Linked DNA regions of Homo sapiens. The protein of the gene in region 2 interacts with the protein of the main gene of each other region in a pairwise test. Each region holds a gene or a part of one and is shown on either strand. Other genes may lie near its edges.

Region 1 (3,500 bases), on a different chromosome or scaffold from region 2:
CCTTTGAGTAGGACAAAGAAGGAATAGAAGAAAGAACAGGGAACAGTTAAAGGAAGAACCTTTACTTTCAGAAGGCCTGAACAGAAAGAGGAAATAAGAAATCAAATAATTCTCTTTTTCTAAATTCTAGGATTTTTTTTAAGTGTCTCCCCAAAGTTTTCAGTCTTAGGATTCACACTGGACAAAACCGTACACTTACTTGAGTGTTAATTTAGTGTTGCAGGTAGAACAGGCAAAGCAGTTCACGCACCAGGCCTTATTAAGAGCAGAGACCACTGGAGAAAGAGGAAAGAGATCTGGTCACATGGAAATACATCAGTATGGGGAGCAGGGCAGCTTAGAATTTCAACTCCAAAACAGAACTACGACTGTGTCTGTGGCACTTGGTGGAGGTTCTCAAGAACCTTTTTTTTTTTTTTTTTTTTTTTTAAATGAGACAGGGTCTTGCTCTATAGCCCAGGCTGGAGTACAGTGGCACAATCTTGGCTCACTGTAACCCCAACCTCCCAGGCTCAAGTGATCCTCCCACCTCAGCCTCCTGAGTAGCTGGGACTACAGGTGCATGCCACTACACCTGGCTAATTTTTTTTTTTTTTTTTTTTTTGAGACGGAATCTCGCTCTGTTGCCAGGCTGGAGTGCAGTGGCGCAATCACGGCTCACTGCAACCTCCGCCTCCTGGGTTCAAGCGATTCTCCTGCCTCATTTTCCCAAGTAGCTGGGACTACAGGTGCGTGCCACCATGCCCAGCTAATTTTTGTATTTAATAGAGACGGGATTTCACCATGTTGGCCAAGATGGTCTCAATCTCTTGACCTTGTGATCCGCCCGTCTTGGCCTCCCAGAGTGCTGGGATTACAAGCGTGAGCCACTGCGCCCGGCCTATACCTGTCTAATTTTTGTATTTTTTATAGAGACACGGTCTTGCCATGTTTCCCAGGACGGTCTTGAACTCCTGGGCTCAAGCAATCTACCTGCCTCGGTCTCCCAAAATGCTGAGATTATAGGCATGAGCCACCATGCCCAGCCAAGAACCTCTTTCCTGAGAGCTTCTTTTCTTTTGTTTTTCAGACAGGGTCTCGCTCTGTTGTCCAGGCTGTATTGCAGTGGTGCGATCACAGCTCGAACTCCTGGGCTCAAGCAATCTTCTCCTCTCGTTCTCCTGTGTAGCTGGGACCATAGGTGTGTGCTACCACACCTGGCTAATTTTTTATTTTGTAGAGATGGAGGTCTTGCTCTGTTGCCCAGGCTGGTATCGAACTCCTGGCCTCAAGAAATTCTCCTGTCTCGGCCTCCTTAAGTGCTGGGATTACAGGTATAAGCCACCACACCCGGCCCTCAACCTTTATGTATACAGTTGTTGCTCAGTATGTGCAGGATACTGTTTCTAGGATGCTGTGAGGATACCAAAATCTCAGACGCTCAAGTCCCTGATATAAAATGCATATAACCTATGTACATTGTCTTGTATACATTTATTTATTTTTTTTGAGACGAAGTTTTTGCTCTTGTTGCCCAGGCTGGAGTGCAATGGTGTGATCTTGGCTCACAGCAACCTCTGCCTCCCGGGTTCAGGTGATTCTCCTGTCTCAGCCTCCCGAGTAGCTGGGATCATAGGCATGCACCACCACACCCAGCTAAGTTTTTGTATTTTTAGTAGAGATGGGGTTTCACCATGTTGGCCAGACTGCTCTTGAACTCTTGACCTCAGTTGATCTGCCCGCCTTGGCCTCCCAAAGTGTTGGGATCACAGGCGTGAGCCACTGAGCCTGGTCCTATCTCGTATACTTTAGATCATCTCTAGGTTAATTATAATGCCTAGTACAATGTAAATGATATGTAAATAGTCATTATACTGTACTATTTGTACTGTTATATTGTTATTTTTCTCTAAATATTTTTGATCCATAGTTGGTTGAATCCACGGATGTTTGGATCCAGCCCCTGGATACGGAGGGCTGACTTTAATCTTCCCCCATCCTTAAGTATCCTGTGAAGTTATAAATGATGTGTGCCATGTCTTACACCAGCAACTGTGCCCCCTTGGCCTGGGCACATGTGGCAACTGTCCATGCACCATGTTGTTTAGGTGAGCTTGCTGTTTCTGTCCCTACTGCTGTTGGCCCAACATGGAAATATGAACTAGGTAAATAATTTTCAAAAATCCAGACATTAACTTATTTGCCCCTGTAGGAGTCTTTTTTCCAGAGCTGATGATAAGAAGACAGTTTCCTTTGCAGCTTCTTTCACCTGGCATCTATTTCACAGAGGAGGGAGGTAAGTTTTATTTTCAATGGCACTAAAGATTGTTTTCCTGGATTGTTTTCACAAACTGCACATGAACAGTGTTTCAAAAGTATTTCCTGAATTAGGTGATGTCTGCAGGGAGCCATGAATCATGCTGAAAACAGGATTGTTCAAAACTTTGCCAGGAAGTCTCTGGCAGAAGTGTGTTAGCGAGTCTTAGCAAACACAGCTGCTTCCTTTCTGTTCCAATCAATCAGCCCAGCCTAATTACCACAGTACAAGGGTGGTAAGTCCTAGATATGCTTGCTGATAACTGCCAGCTTTTAGCATGTGCAGGTTAAAGTGCCTCTTCCTAACTACGATAGCAGATTAAACTGTTCCTAATAAACGTTGTTCTAGAGCTTCCTGAAACTGGACACAAACAGGTCTTAGGGTCCACCAGGGACAGTTCCCATGATTGCTGGCATACAACACTGCAGCAGTGGCCGAAAGTAGTGTCATAAATCAGTAACAAATCCAACTCTTTGATATTATCATCTTACTGCTACAGATTACTTGGAAAATACGCCAAAGATAGAGAAAAAGTAACTGATAACGATCACATTTCAAACCATACAATCACCAACCTGAATTTCCACATTACCCAAGTGTTTTTGTGTCAAAGTGGCACCAATCTAAAACTCACACAGATACTTACCATCACCTTCTATAACACGATTGCAGTGGAAGCAAACATCACCAAATAGCTGAAAATAAAAAAAGGTGGTCAAAGTTCAAGATGTGTTAGAATTTTTAGAACACTGAACATTTAAAAATAGCTGGCTATCTAAATTGAGGATTTATCACTACTAGAGAAATTTAGTAAAAGTTCTTTGACAAGTTTTTACTTCTTACAATGAAAGTAATTCACTCTCATCAATTAAAAGAAAAACTTTCCAGATGACAGTTTGAACACCCAAATAAGTGATGCAAAATATAGAAATCTGTGAGTCCATATGGATAAGAAATAGATAAATGAATAAACCTATAGACGGGAGAGGAGGTGGGTTCTTGCTCAGGCAGAGCGCTGAGGACCAGACTATGGGTGGAGGGCATGGGGCTGGAGAAGTGTCGTTTGCAGCTGGCGCAGAGACAAGAATCATCAAGGGGTGCTGAATCTAGGGCAGGTTGATGAGGAACAGGACATTTCCATGGTCATAAAATGATTGCCCACAGATTGCTTCTTTCTTACAGAGGAGGGAAGGAAATTGTAATT
Region 2 (4,275 bases):
AGAGATTTATTAACGAATCGCTTCTGCTTGGTGGTATGCGGTCTGGGAGTTCAGGCTAAGAGTTAATGAGAGGTGGGTAACAGTCAGAGGGTCTCAGTCAGACCATTCAACCGCAACTGCAAACCCCCATTAGTAATCAACTTTCCCACCACAAATCACGATTCATTTTTGCTCGGTGGCAAGTCTCTTAGGGAGGCAGGGGAAAAGGATTCTACTAACATTCCTGGTAATCTACCTGATTATTTCCCTTTCAATTAAAAATAATAATTTATACCTTTATTTCCTTCTCTTTGCGTAATGAGGATTTTCCAGAGATTCAAAATATTATTTTTCCCTTCGTGTTGAAAAGCAACCTCTTTCCCATAGAGAGGAAACCGAAATTATTATTTGGGTGTATTCCCAGACTAGATTTCTTAGAAATAAATACAGGAGGCAAAGCACAACTCCCACCACAGGGTGTATGCGTTGGGGAGGGGGGAGCGGGCATGTGGGGGAGTGGTGTTGGCTAAAGTACTGTTGTGACCTGTGATTTCTATACCAAAGGCACAGCGAACTCTGCCATAAAGGTTACACTGCCACAAAGTTGAGTGCCATCTTCTTTCCCTTTTCTCTGAATGGTTTATAATACAGAAATTAACGACTAATATAATTCAGGTTCATGTTAGTAAAAAAAAAAAGTGCTATTTCATAGTACCTGTTTGTTTTAATTTGTAGGGCAGATAGTTTCTTCATAGAGGAAGAGCAAACCATTGGTCCTTTTGAAACCCTTTTACAAACAGAACAACCTTAAATATCCACCAATGGCTCTTGCCACAAATAATTAGGAAGGTTAAATTTCCACACTCCCATTGAGTTGCTGGAAATGTATGTCAAAAGAAGTATTTTAAGTGAATGCAGAGATCCTAAAGTACTTTCGTTTTGTCTAGAGCTGAGCCTTGTAGTTCCCACACTCCCTTTCAGGAAATAACAGCGATCATCATCTGCTGTCATTTCTCCACCGTCCCGTTTCAGACCACTGGTTACTTTTAATCTTGCAAGGAAAGAAACTTAAACCAATGAAAAGTCATAAATATGTTGGTGGAGCTGAGGCTACTTTTCTTTCATCAGTCTTCTTCACAGGAATTTCCAGGCATGTGGAGAAATTTTGTAAAATTTACTTGACTGGCTGTCACCAAGGAAGATGTGTACACACTTATTTCAGTTCAGTGAAGCTTTCAAAACATTGGAGAAAAAAATTAAGAAGTAACTTGATAAGGAGTTTCGCTCTTTGGTAATGGTAATATTACACTGAATTATCTAAAAATAATATACAGTCAGGGTTCATCTGCTAAAACCTGTGCACTGGTATATGAGATAAATGACTGATGGTCGGATAGGTAGGCTCACTGAATTTCAGCCCAAACCACAGCAGAATTTTATATAAATTAGAGAGCTATAGACTAAGTAGATCAAAGAAGATCATTAAAAAGAAAAAAAATTGTTAAAGGACAGATTGTTAGGGCCAGACTGTATCAGGTGAATAGAGAAACGGCTGCGAAGTTCCTGCCCCTTCAGAGCGCCTCTGCCTTCCCAAGGAGTTAATTAAATTAAGATGCCTTCCGCATAATCTAGGTTCTGTTTCTCTGTGCTCCCCTTGCTCCCCCTGCGTGAGTAATTTTCTTGTTCTGCCCAGGACTGCAGTTTGTTTAGCAGAGAAAGTGGCTGTCTGCGCCCTTTCGCTTCGGGAAACGCCAGCCCCCTTTTGTTCTCGGCTAACAGGTAGGAAGACAGATCCGGGGCTCCCTCCACAAACACCTTTTCCTCGCTCCTTCTTCGTACAACTGCAACTCCTTTCTCACTTGCCGTTTCTCAGGAATCCGAGCGTTTAAGCCCCCGGGGAGTTTGCTTTTGGGCCCCCTCAGTCAGGACTAGAAGGTGGGAGGAGAATTTTAAAGCCAGCACGAGGTTGACAAATTACCGAGGACTGAACTATTTCCCTCTTGAAATGTGCCTTCAGCGTCGCTGGCTGGGCAGGCACCGGGTGTCCGGGCCCGTCCACGCTGCGCTGCCGCGGCTGCCCCGGGACAAGTCGACCCAGGCTTGCTAGGGCAGGAGCAGAAACACCATGGGATTGTGGGGTTTGATCTCAGTGTACGTAGACCAGCTTTTATAAGAAGTCTTGCTGACCGCTTAGATTAAATATCCCAAAACAAAATTAAGAAACAGTATGTAGAAATGTGTGTGGTTGGGTGTTAGCTGGGAGTCGCGTGCCAGGGACCCAAGGAAGTGAGAAATACAGTGCCCTGGGATTGCATCCCCATGATCTATTTTCACATCTGAATTTGGGGCACACCAGACCGAGAATCTGAACGCCTCTTACACCCCCAAACCCTTCCTTCCAAAGGGCAGCTACAGCCCCTTCCCAGAGCGAACACTCACCTCCCGCAGAAAGGTCAACCTGGGCAGCCGCGCTCAGACCCGGTCCAGGCAGCGAGGCGCACAGCTTGGAAAGGTCATTGAGTCCACGCCTGGCAAACTTTTTTTTCCGCGCGGAGTCGCAGGAGTCGCGGACATGATCTGGAGGACCGCGAGCAGCTAAAGCGAGAGCAGATCCACGTCTTCGTCAGAGTCTGTGGACGCGGACTGTGTAAAGACCCGGGGTGCTTGGGGCCGGCGTTCAGCGCTCGCCCAGAACCTCGCTCTTCGGCGAACCTCTCGCTGTCGACTCCCGGTGAGGTCGGAGCCCACAGCCTTGCAGGGCCATCACCCTCCAGCAGCAAGCACGCCGAGCTCCGTCCCCGCCCGCGTCCCTCCCCAGGCTGCCCCAGGCCGGGAGTCTTGGGCTTTAGTAGCGGCCCCGCCTCCCCTTCGGGCGGGCGTCCCGCCGCCGCGCGGGGCCCTCAGCGCCCTGGCTCCGCCTCCGCGCCCGGCGTCTGCTAATGGTCCACTCTGTTTACTTCTGTTTGGATAGCAACTGAGTCTTAAAGGCACAGGTTTGCTCGAGGTTTCCCTGTTATAGAGACGCAGCCGTAGGTGACTCAGTTCAAAACTCACACACAAACACAATACCCACCCCCTTTCTTCTCGTTGCCACTTTTCCTTATACCATTAGAAACTCAACAACTGCTTCTCTGCCTCTCAAAGACTCCACAGAGAATCCCAAAGGGCATTTAGTATTTTTATTTGGTTCGCTCGCCGGCTTAATTTGCACATCTTAACACATTCAATACAACTACCTTCACCGTAAAGTAAAATAATTCAGGTCTAGACTGCATTCTCCAGCATAAATCACTCTTTCCCCAATTTTAAACAGTTTTGTACATACTTTTGGTCAATTATGACTACATGTGTAGTCTGCTTTCGCCTGCTGTTTTCTAAACGAAGTTTGTTTACAGAGGTGGCAATTGACTAATTTAGTAATTATTGCAAAGACGCGTGGAATGCCCCAGGAGAAATTTCTTCCAATATTTAAGCTTTAATCGGCAAATGTTCATTTCATACGCAGTAAACCAACTTGGTTAAAACAGTGGGCATCTGCAACCCATTGGCAAAGAATAAAGAATCCATCTGGAATTGGTGAAGAACAATCATTTTTAAAATTTAGGAAAATGCGATTCTAGTTTTTCAAAACATTTACATCTTCATTCCCAGCAAAAATTGAGTTCAATGTTCAGTCTCCAGGAAAGTTAATAGAATTCAAAGTGCAGTGATACATTTTTCAGGTCCTTCTAAAGGTTTGGTCTTGTGTGAGTGTAACTGCAAAAAGCACTTCAACCTCTCTGGAATAGGGGTGACCGAGTGACAGGAAGGGAATGATACACACCCATTTTAAGCAGCTTCTTTTCAGATGTGATTTGCGTGATCAACACTAAGCAAAAACGCCCTTCGTCCCAGACGAGTTGCCAGAGGGGATCTGTGTTACTCCACGGCAAGCCCGCACTTTGAGGACGTAGATCTTCAACCAAGAGGCTGTACAATTCAAAAGTGTTCCGTCGAAAGATGGTTTTGAATGAGACGCCCCAAAGGACAATTCAAAAAATCTCAATCGTGCGGGGAAGTAGATAAATACAAGCAGAGGCTAAAAACTGTCAAAAGGTTAAGCAGTAATTGGGGAGTCAAGCAGAAGCTCCCAGATATTATTTTATTAAGATAAAATTCTTTCTATTTTATTTATGCCGAGGTGGAGAGAATTTTTCGTTCCTTTGGTAAAACATAACAGGGGTCGCAGATTTTTTTTCTGTCTTTCCAATTTTAAGTTCGCAAAGATTAAAAAGTGAGCTTGAAACGGAGATTCGA

What was found. The genes of interacting proteins can lie anywhere in the genome.
Region 1: the proteins of OSR2 (region 2) and LIMS1 interact in a two-hybrid assay, tested with the Homo sapiens proteins (one large-scale study listed by BioGRID and IntAct).

Annotation. Positions count from the first base shown.
Region 1 is NC_000002.12:108,677,470-108,680,969, reverse strand, and holds part of LIMS1 (LIM and senescent cell antigen-like-containing domain protein 1), read right to left. Parts: exon of another isoform or gene 3,479-3,500; intron 2,992-3,478; coding exon 2,943-2,991; intron 2,532-2,942; exon of another isoform or gene 2,369-2,531; intron 276-2,368; coding exon 200-275; intron 2-199; coding exon of another isoform or gene 1-1. UniProt on the Homo sapiens protein: Within the IPP (ILK-PINCH-PARVIN) complex, binds to F-actin, promoting F-actin bundling, a process required to generate force for actin cytoskeleton reorganization and subsequent dynamic cell adhesion events such as cell spreading and migration.
Region 2 is NC_000008.11:98,942,967-98,947,241, reverse strand, and holds the start of OSR2 (protein odd-skipped-related 2), read right to left. Parts: upstream 2,801-4,275; 5' UTR 2,419-2,800; intron 1-2,418. UniProt on the Homo sapiens protein: May be involved in the development of the mandibular molar tooth germ at the bud stage.